Linked DNA regions of Homo sapiens: region 1 is linked to region 2. The links come from fine-mapping of genetic effects on gene expression. A gene starts in region 2. The other region holds a variant in brackets. All regions are shown on one strand. Distances are from middle to middle. Region 1 has its middle 14 kb from the start of LINC02970. Region 2 holds the start of SLCO4A1-AS2 (SLCO4A1 antisense RNA 2).

The links.
Region 1: its variant is fine-mapped to the expression of SLCO4A1-AS2 in whole blood (TOPMed, PIP above 0.99).

What each region holds. Positions count from the first base shown.
Region 1 is chr20:62,615,010-62,620,376 of GRCh38, reverse strand. No RefSeq gene overlaps it. Among named protein-coding and RNA genes, the nearest start is that of LINC02970, 14 kb to the right of the region's middle. RefSeq lists enhancers at 1,706-1,755, 3,423-3,572. The variant T/C (reference allele first, on the strand shown) is at 2,001.
Region 2 is chr20:62,649,209-62,654,575 of GRCh38, reverse strand. It overlaps SLCO4A1-AS2 (SLCO4A1 antisense RNA 2), which reads left to right and starts at 2,390. Exons shown (of 2, transcript NR_183965.1): 1 at 2,390-2,766; 2 at 3,068-5,367. The region is part of intron 1 of SLCO4A1 (solute carrier organic anion transporter family member 4A1); the gene reads right to left. RefSeq lists enhancers at 1,909-2,098, 2,879-2,968, 2,979-3,278 and silencers at 2,279-2,408, 2,519-2,698.

The sequences.
Region 1 (5,367 bases), 34 kb after region 2:
TGATTGAGATGGTCTATAAGTGTAAAACAAACACTAGATTTTAAAGACTTAGTAGAAAAAAGGGAGAGTAAAATCACTCTTTAATAATTCTTTAGGCCAGGCATGGTGGGTCATGCCTGTGATTCCAGCACTCTGGGAGGCCAAGGCAGGTGGATCACCTGAGGTCAGGAGTTCGAAACCAGCCTGGCCAACATGGCGAAACCCCATCTCTACTAAAAATACAAAAATTAGCTGGGCATGGGGTGGCACACGCCTGCAATCCCAGCTACTCGGGAGGCTGAGGCAGGAGAATCACTTGAACCCGGGAGGCAGAGGTTGCAGTGAGCCGAGATTGCGCCACTGTGCCCCAGCGTGGGTGACAGAGCGAGACTCCATCCCTCAAAATAATAATTCTTTGTATTGATTATCCAAGTGATAATATTATGGCTCTATTGGATTTAAATAAAAATAGTATTGGCTGGGTGCCGTGGCTCATGCCTGTAATCCCAGCACTTTGGGAGGCCGAGGCGGGCGGATCACCTGAGGTTGGGAATTCGAGACCAGCCTGACCAGCATGGAGAAACCCTGTCTCTACTAAAAATACAAAATTAGCTGGGCGTGGTGGCGCATACCTGTAATCCCAGCTACTTGGGAGGCTGAGGCAGGAGAATAGCTTGAACCTGGGAGCTAAAGTTTGCAGTGAACCGAGATTGTGCCATTACACTGCAGCTGGGGCAACAAGAGCGAAACTCCGTATCAAAAAATAAATAAATAAATAAAAAAGTATTAAAATTAATCTCATTTGTTTATTTTCCCTTTTGTCAGTATGGCTGCCAGCACAGGTAAACTTACATGCGTGGCTTTGCTACATTTTTACTGGACTCTGCTCTTCTAGATGCTCAGAACTCTTCGAAGCCTGCAGGTTTGAACACACCACCTAGCAGAAGCTCGGAAAGGGCGGCTTGCAGCCACACAGCTCCGCAGCTCCATTATCTGGTGCCCAGCAGGGGAGGGGGTGTGGCGTGTGAGTGGGCATGAGCGTGCACAGGTTTGTCGGCGTGTGTGTCTCTGTTTGGGGGGACTGTGTGTGGGTGTCCATGTCACTCTTCTGAGGCAGGGACAGTCTGGGCCGTGGTTCCTAGGATGGGACCAGAGGCCTCTCATCTCGCGCCGAAGAAACCCTGCAGATGAACAATCTGGTCTGGCATTTCAGAGACAGAGTGGCCCATCCCCCGACTGGCCCAGCATTTTGGGGATAGAGTGGGCTGTCTCCACTGACCCCCCGCTTTGTGGAAGGAAGCTCTGCTCACCAGCCAGGGGGCAAGAGGAGACGCTGCTCCCCGTGCAGAACCGGGGGCTGCTTTAGGTTCTTGGGTAGTGGGGCCCAGCCTGGAAGCTTCCTCTTTCTCTGGCCCCACAGTCAGCCCACACAGGATGGAGCCTTCAGGGAGGTCCCTGGTGGTCCTCCAGCCCTGGTGAGTCAGGAGCGTTGGGCGGGAAGGTCGGTCTGTGTGGCTGACCTGACACCTCCACCTGGGTGCATTTACCCGGGGGAGAGAATTCCTCCCCTCAGAGCCCCGGGGAGGGGCTGGGCTCTGGGGTTGCTGGCTGCTCCTGGCCTTAGCTGCCCGTGTCAAATGCCACATCCTGGGACCTCGTGATCTCAAAATTACTCAGACCTGGGACCCCCTTGTACAGGAAACGGCAGGTCATGTGGGGTCACCGGGGTTTCACAGTGAACTGTCATGGGGAACCAGAGTGGAAATATTTGCAAAGCCATCATTCTTTTCTTAGACAAAATCTCCCATCTTCTGCATGGGTGGGGCAGTTTTCCAAGGCATGACCTACGGATGTGGAGGGGGTTGGGGTTGTGACCTTTGGCTGGGGGCAGGTGGGGGTCAGGTGTGAGGCCAGACCTAGGCCTGGCCTCGAGTCTCTGCCCTATGCCATCTGTAAAATGGGCCCACGGATCCCTCCAGCCTCCTGGTCTCTGGGGGAGAAACAGACGAACCCTGTGGGGC[T/C]CTCAGGGCTGGCCGTGCAGGAGACAGGTCCTAGTGGGGCACAAACAGGAAGCCTGCCTGGGGTAGTGTCGGCTGAGGAGCCGCCACCCCTTCCTCCTCGTGTCTCACAGTGGGCCTGGCAGGCCGATTCGGGGCCTTCCCGGAGCTGCAGAGCCCTGGCATTGCTGAGTCACATCCGAGAACAGGAGGGTGGAGAACTCCCAGGCGGGGACAAGTGTCCTCAGGGTCTGCTGTCCCGCTGTGTGCCCGGAATGGCCTGACCCACCCACCTCCGGCTTCTCTCCCGGTTGTCACGTGAGACTGTGAGACCCCAAGGAGGCGCCAATGGCTTTTATTTCATCAAAATCTCGTGGATTTCAAGAAAGCAGAAGACCTGGGCCACTGTGGGTGTCACCCCTCCGGGTGCCCAAATTGGCTTTTCCTGGAGCCCCTTCCAGCGCCTCAGCTGGGCTCTGGAGTGACACGCAGAGTCACAGGTGCCCCAGGCTCACATCTTCATTGCTCAGTGATGTCTTGGCCCCAGGCAAGGCTGGGCCCCTAGGTGGCCTTGGGGCAGGGGACCCCACTGACCTCACTGACCACTGCCTCCTGGGATCATCCCAGTATGTGCTGGTGACTTCTGCATATGCTGCGGGCATTTTTCTATGCATAGACATATTATATTTTTGAAAATATAAGAAGGAATAAAAGGAAACACTCACCCAGATCCAGATCTCTGTAACTGCTGCATAAGCTGCCCCAGGCACTGTGGGGGCCCACCTGGTTCCTGCTGCCCATGAGGGAAGGAGGTCACCTGCAGGCCCACCTGGCCATTTGTCAGTCTTGGGGGCAGAAAGCCAACACCCTCGGGGTCTCATGAGAGCAGGGAGGGCCTCTAGCAAAGCCGCAGCTGACCACGGCCACACTTGTGTCCCTCGGGGCTGGCTGGGATCCGCAGCCACTGCGTTGCCCCATGGGAGGGAAAGACTCTTGCGGGCCCCGCTCCAGGGACGATGTCTCCATAACTCGGTGTAACTGGGAACCATTGAATCAGAGCACTTCTTTTTAAACGGTTTTCAGTCATGCTTGAGGGAAGGAGCCTGTTCTTCCACCGGTAGGTACAGCTGCCAAAGCTGACATCTCAGGGTCTTTTTTTAAAAAGTCTTTCTCGTAACTCTAATCAGTTCTGCATGCAGGAAGTCCAATTGGGCCTCACGTCACCACCAAATGCGTGGGGTTCCGGGAGGCACAGAGGCCCCAACAGCCCAATCCCTGCGTGGGGTCCACTCCTCTCCCTGCGGGTGTGGACCTGTGAAGTCCCCGGGGCCTTCCCACTGGCCTCCCAGGCAGTGCCTCTCCTGGCCATGAGAGGGCAGCCTCGCCCCTGCTGAGCCCAGGCACCCAGCGACCCCAGCTGGAATCTGCTGCTGTGTGGATGTCCGTCGGCCCCTGCTGGGAGCCCTCCTGGGACTCCTCGGAAACCAGCATCTCTGAGGAGGAACAGGAAGGTCTCTGATGAGCTATAGTCCCCACGGCCCTTGATGGGCACCCTGAGCAGGGTGGAGCAGCGGGGTGGATAGATTTGGGATCCCAGAACACTAAGGTGCAGGGAAGCTCAACTTCAGCATCTACCTGCAAGCTCCAGGTGCAGAGGTCAGAGGAGGCCCCCAGCACACGGGTAGGGGAGGCCCAGGTGCCTCTAATCAGTTCTGCATGCAGGAAGTCCAACTGGGCCTCACATCGCCACCAAATGCATGGGGATTACAGACGTGTGCCACCACGCCCTGCTAATTTTTGTATTTTTAGTAGAGACAGAGTTTTGCCATGTTGGCCAAGCTGGTCTCAAACTCCTGACCTCGGGTGATCTGCCTGCCTCAGCCTCCCAAAGTGCTGGGATTACAGGCTTCAGCCACCACCGCGCCTGGCCGGAAATACATTTTCTTTCCTTTTAAAAAACCAACACAAGTTCATTATAGAAGTTTAGAAAATAAGAATAAGTCAAGAGGCTGGAATAAAAGTTGCTTCTAATCCCACAGACCCTGAAAGATGGGGGCACTGGTTACCCAGGTGAATGAACAGCCTTACCACCATTTGAAACCATGACAGCATGTTTAGATTCTACTCATCACTTTGCCCCCTACCCACCAAAGGCCAGGACCCCTAACCCAGGAGGGCAGGAGAAGGGGGACTCCCTGACCAACTGGAATCTTGGGGGTAAGGGGCAAATGAAAGCATTGTTCATGCCTTTCAGAATGGGGACCCCTCCTCACTCTTACCCACCACGATCCCCAAGAGATCCAAGCCCAGCCCCAGGCAACGTGCCGGGTCGGCTGGTCGGTCTCTACTCTGCAGCCCCCATGATGTGACAGCGACCTGAGCCCGCACAGTGCTCAACATGTGATCGAGTGAAAGATCATAAAACACGCACCACGTTGGCTCATTTGACAGACATGTGCAGCATGAACATTATAAACACACTGGCGTGATGCAGATTCATGGCCTACACAGACAACAACATGCAGGAACATGTACACAGACAACAACACACAGAAACAACATGTACACAGACAACAACATGCAGAAACATGTACACAGACAACAACACACAGAAACAACATGTACACAGACAACGACACACCAAAACATGTACATGGACAACAACACACAGAAACACGTACATGCAACCGCTACCACCACCCACCATCTGAACTTTCATCATCCCAAACGGAGGCTCTGTCCCCATGAAACAGCAACTCCCTGCCACTCCTACCCCCACTCTACTTTCTGTCTCTACGCGTGTGGCCACTCTAGGAACCTCGTACGAGTGGAGGCACGCAGGACCTGTCTTTCTGTGTCTGCTTATTTCACTCAGCACAGTGTCCTCCGGGGCCGTGCAGTTCGTAGCCGGTGTTAGCAGTCCCTTCTTTTTTAAGGCTGAGTAATATTCCGTTGTGTGAATAGACCACATTTTGTTCATCCACCGAGGGGCGCTTGGTGGCTTCTACCTTTGGGCTACTGTGACTAAGGCTACTGGGAACACAGGTGTACAAGTGCAGAGCCAGCTTTCAGGTCTTCGGCCACATACCCGGTTTCCAGAAGCGGCACTGCTGAATCCCAAGGTGATTCTACTTTTGATTTTTGAGGACGTGCCACGCCGTTTGCCAGTTTGGCCTGTTCTGTGCTTCCGCTGGGCAGAGTCACTCAGTTCGCGTCGTGCGTGCCAGGCTGTCTCACGAGACGTTAGGTTGCGAGATGCATCCAGGTTGTTGAGCACAGCTGAGGCTGCTCCTTCACGGGGCCATAGTGCATGGCAGATCCCACAGTGTATTTACTCACACGAAATGGTTGGCAGGCGTCTGGGCTGCTTTCAGCTTGAGATAATTATGAC
Region 2 (5,367 bases):
GCCCTAAGTATCCGGCCTTGGGGTCTCCTTCCAGCCACAGCCGGCGACGCGCAGAGATGCACGGAGATGCAGGGACAGCAGGCAGTCCCGTGGGGACCTGGGCTGGGTGATACCCCAGGATCCTCCTGGCAGCTCCTCACAGAGTCTGCTCACTGGGCCTGCGCTGGGGCTGGGGTGGGCGGACCGGTGCCCCCCGTGTTCCCCGGGCAGTCACGTTCACCTGGGACCTGAGCGCATGACCTTATTTGGAAAAAGCGTCTTTGCAGATGTGACAAGTGATCTGAGAAGAGATCATCCTGGATTAGGGTGGGCCCTAAACCCGGTGACAGGTGCATTTTTAGAGGAGAAGATGACACAGAGAAGGCCACCTGCAGACAGAGACAGAGACGGGCGTGGCGCTCTCAGGACCACCTGGAGCCCCGGGAGCCACTGGGGGCAGGAAGGACCCTCCTCAGAGCCCCAGGGGGAGCACAGCCTGTGTGGACTTTGGGTTCCTGGCCTCCGGAGCTGGTGGGAATAAACTATTTTTTTTTATTATTATACTTTAAGTTCTAGGGTACATGTGCACAACATGCAGGTTTGTTACATATGTATACATGTGCCATGTTGGTGTGCTGCACCCATTAACTCATCATTTACATTAGGTTTATCTCCTAATGCTATCCCTCCCCCCTCCCCCCACCCCATGGCAGGCCCCGGGGTGTGATGTTCCCTGCCCTGTGTCCAAGCGTTCTCATTGTTCAATTTCCACCTATGAGTGAGAACATGCAGTGTTTGGCTGGGAATAAACTATTTTTTAAGCCCTTTGGTGTGTGGTCATTTCTTACAGCAGCCCCCACGGAGGCAAACAGGTGTCACATATGCCCCCGAATTTGGGAGATGACAGAGGCCTGAGGAGGGCCCAGAGAGATGACCTTGGGGTTGAGGCAGAGTTAGAGCTTAACAGACACACTAACTCTAAGGTCAGCGTGGCGGGTGGGAGCGGAGGCGCAGCCGGTGATCCGCCATGGGGCTGCGAGGGGACACAGGGGCCTCAGTGAGAACCAGCCCCGGGACAGGCCTATGCTGACAGACACTACAGCATTTGGGGATGACAAATTGCTGGCTTTTTTTGTTTTGTTTTGTTTTTTAATAAAGGGGCAACTTCATCTGTGAAGGCAGATAAACCGGGCCCAGCATGGTCAGGCCGGGAGCAGGCCATGGGATCTCCCCCAGGTCCAGGCAAGGCTTGTTTTACGTCTGGAGAGATCTGGCGGTACCAGCACCCCTTCCCCAAGGCCACAGGGATCTCAGGATTGAGCCCCCAAAGCTGGGCTCTGGGTCCTCCCGCCACGTCCTCTGCCGAGGCGCGGTCCCCACAGGGCTCCTCTGTGGAATCGGAGGTCTCGCCCTCTCAGCGAATGGATGCCTCAGCCCCAGGCTCCTTGGGACGAAGGCGGGCAGCTGCTGTGAAGAATCCCGCTGGGTGGCAGGGTGCTAACACCCGCTGTGCACACTGAGCACCAGCTGTGTACCAGGCACCGTCCCAGGCCTCACAGTAGGGGAAGAAGGCCCAGGGGGGTCAGTCATTTGCTCGAGGCCACACAGCCCGCCGGTGGCAATGAGGATGCAGCCCCCGCAGTCTGGCCCCAGAGCCAAGCGTCTGCGTCACAGCTGCCTTCTGACACCTACTGAAAGAGCCGTGCACGCTCGTGTGGCACTCACGTGCAGCCGCTGTTGACCTTGGACACTGCCGGGAGGCTGTTTGAGGCCGTATTTGGAGGCCTCGGACAGCAGAGATTCCACAGCATTCATGCCTGGGGCCTGCTCCCTGGGTGCCCGCGGCCACACCCGGGGGTTTATTTACAATGCCAACACCTATCCACGAGCTGGCAGGCCAGGCTGGTTTGGGACCTGCTGCGTCAGAAAGGGAGTGTGCGTGGAAGGAGAGACATTCATATTGTAAGAGCAATGCTCCACGCCTCCCCAAGGGGCAGAGAGCCACCCACGGCCACCCACGAGCCACAGGCTTTCTACTGAAGCGAGCTGTCACAAGGATGACGTCCCAGGAGCATGTGTAACACAAGAACTCGAATGCCAGGAGTCAGCGGAAAAGCCGGAGGAGCAAGAGCCCCGGGGCGGGACTGACGAGGAGGCGCAAGGGCTCCACCGGCCGCCGGCCGCCGAAACAGAAAGCAACCTCAGAGGCCCGGAGGAGGACAGGCCAGGCTCAGAGCCACGCAGACTCCCCAGGCAGCCTGTGGGTGTGTTTCCCTCGCATTGTTTTTCTTAGTGCAGGAACACAGAGCCAAGAACTACCCTGAGGACTGCCTGGAGGTCAAGGTCCACCCACACACACAAACACGTGCACACGCACACACATAAATAGCAGAAACTTGACCTCATTTCCGGGCTGGGCCAGAACATGAAGGGAAGGAGCCTCAACAGGGCCAAGGAACAGCCTGACGCAGGCGGGAGAGTGCTCAGAGGTTCCGCCTAGCTGCACGTGCTGGCACGGGGAGGGGGGCCGAGCGGGGGTGGGGGGTGTGGGGCGGGGCAGGGTGGGGGAGGCGGGGGCAGGGGGAGTGGGTCGGATTCGGCAGCACTTCTGCAAAGGATCTGATGGGGTCCCTGGGATGCTCAATGGTGGGCAAGCCCACGTAAACCATTGCGAACCAAGACGCTGGCTGCCGTGAAACACCCGCTCAACGCCCGGGCACTGGGCTTGCCTCATACAGGCAGTTTGTTCAGCCCTGGCCTCAGGACCAGACGCTGGGGCCAAAGCAGGTAAGGGGGAAGGGGGAGGATCCCGTCTGCATAGCTTTGAGAGGAAGCCAGATTGCTAAGTTTCGTGACCAGCAATGGCCACAGAGAAACAGAAGGACTTCCTTCTTGAAAATGAAAGCCACAACTGAGAAAGAACAGGTAGTTGTAGGTGTCCAAACAGCTCCAAGCTGAAGGCTGTTTTACCTGAATTAAAAGCTCTGACATAAATATGTAAAGCTCAGCCGAAAGTTACCTATTATGCACATTTAAATCAGCAAATTTAAAATCCTCTTTTAAATATCAGCCATGTGGCTTCCGACAGATGCCCATCAGACGGCCGCAGACGATGAGAATTACATGGCACCACTCAGCTCACCAGCTGTGCACCTCCAGGGGCTTCCGTTGGGGCCTCGTTCTGACGTCTTTCTGAGATCCAGCAGCGACCTGGCTTCGGGCCAGCCTCCCTTATCTGAATCTCACGCAAGCAGCATGTGTGTGACAGTACCCATTCCATCTTCATCATGCCCAAGAGTTTCAGCTCCGGGTTCTCTTCTGAAGCTGGAAATCTTCTCTGGGAGGCCGTTTCCCCATTAAAACAGCGGTGTCTAGATTGGAAAGGGGAGGGTGGGCCTTCCATGACTCAGGGCTAAAGGACAACAGGAGCAAACATAAAAGCTGGCTATGATGGGGCGTCTGGCCTGGCTCCTGCCATCCAGGGGACAGATGGGTTGTGGAGTGACGCTGGGCAGGCAACACTCTGGACTCTCAGGGCGATGAGGAGGGTCCCACATTCATGCATTTCCCAAAGGAAGTTTCCAGGATTGTACCAAGACCTCACATGGATACGTCCTAAGCACTGGCATTTACTGAGCGTGCCGTTCTGAGCTGGTGAGCCAGAGGGATGAGAACTCTGCCTGGAGAAGTGGGTGCCCAGCATGTATGTCAAGGCTTGGCCCGGACCTGAGGGAGTCCTTGCTGAACGTGCGGTGCAGGACTTACATTTCAGGGCTAACGTTTGCCACGAAAACCAGCCCAACGTGGGACATGAAAGCATCTTAGCCGCAGCAGCCGAGTCCAGCAATGTGGACAGCCAGACGCATGCTTGGTGGAGGCAGCCAGCGCCCCCATCCTGGTCTCGGTCATCAGTTCCATCAATGACAAATGCTGCTGGGGCCCATGAGGACCACCCGCGCCACTCACATGTTGCTTTCCTTCTGCGATCTGCTAGCTTCCGAGATGGCCAAGGCAGATGCACTCATGGCTCAGTGAGAAGGTGAACGTCACCTCTGCGTTCACTGCTAATGGAGACTGGAGTAATGATGTCTGGTCCGCGTTAAGGCGGGCAGCTCGGCAGCCCACACCTTTGGTTTTCTGGTCTCAGGCCCATTATGGATAAGCTGGTGTGGGGTGGGGCAGGGGAGTTTCAGGGGCTGGAAGGGCCTCATGGCAGCCCCACGTAGAGGCTGCCTAGCCCCTGGACTGGCCCCACCAAGGGGAACAGGACATTGCAGCTGGGCTTGGGGAAGAAGGGAGGCCTGTCCTTTTGATTCTTCTTTCTGGCATCCTGTGTGTGCACGTCTGTGTAGGTGTGTGTACACATGCACACCTGCCTATAGTTTCTTTCCACTTGGAATTGGTTTTGACAAAAAGGTGCGTCAGCTTCCCAAGCTGGTCCCTGTAACAGTGAAGGATGGAGCCTCATCCTCATCCCAGAGCCACACCCTCAGCTTCCCCTGGAAAAGGCAGCGGCTTCTTCCGATCCACACCCTCAGCTTCCCCCGGAAAAGGCAGCAGCTTCTTCTGATGCATGGATACAGCCCCCACTACGGAGCTGGGGAGGGAGCTGCAGGCAGCCTTGACCCCAGACCAAATTCAAAGGACCTGCCTCTTCCAAAGGCCTCCCTCCAAGGGCCACGGGGACCCCATGACCGTCCTCTCATCCCAAGCTGGCTGCATGGGGTGGGCTGGTTTATACGCAGATAAGACTGCACCTGCTGATGAGGCCAGATGCAGGTGAACCCCGGTGCTGCAAATGAGGAGTCTGCAGATGGGGTGAGGCTGAAAGGCAGTTGTGGAAGGCCGGGCAGTGGCAGCCACGTGGCAGAGGAGGGGGTGGGAGACCCGGGGCAGGGATGGGACAGCCATGGGGTGCAGGAGACTGCACCCCCTGTGAAGGACAGGCCAGCGGCCAGCCCCCAGGCCACCCTGGCTCCTGTCAGCATCCCAGGTCGAGTCCACTGTCATCCTCATCTGAACACCCTGACTGCATCTAACACCAGGGCATCTGCTTCCTGGCCTCTGCAGGGCCCACTCTACAGCCTCTGACGCTATGTGCGATGGTCTCAGGGTCAGGGCCAAGAGCACTGTGATAGCGAATTTCATGTGTCAACCTGAGTGGGCCTTGGGTGCCTAGACATTTAGCCAAGCATCGTTCTGGGTGTGCTGTGGGTGTTTCCAGGTGAGATTAGCATGTGAAGGGTGGCCCTCCCCAGGGTGGTGGGCCTCGTCCAATCAGTTGGGGGCCTACATAGATCCAAAGGCTGAGTGAGAGGGCCTCCTCCTGTGACAGCTGCAGCTGGGACCTCGGTCTTTTCCTGCCTTTGGGCTTGGACTGAAATGCCA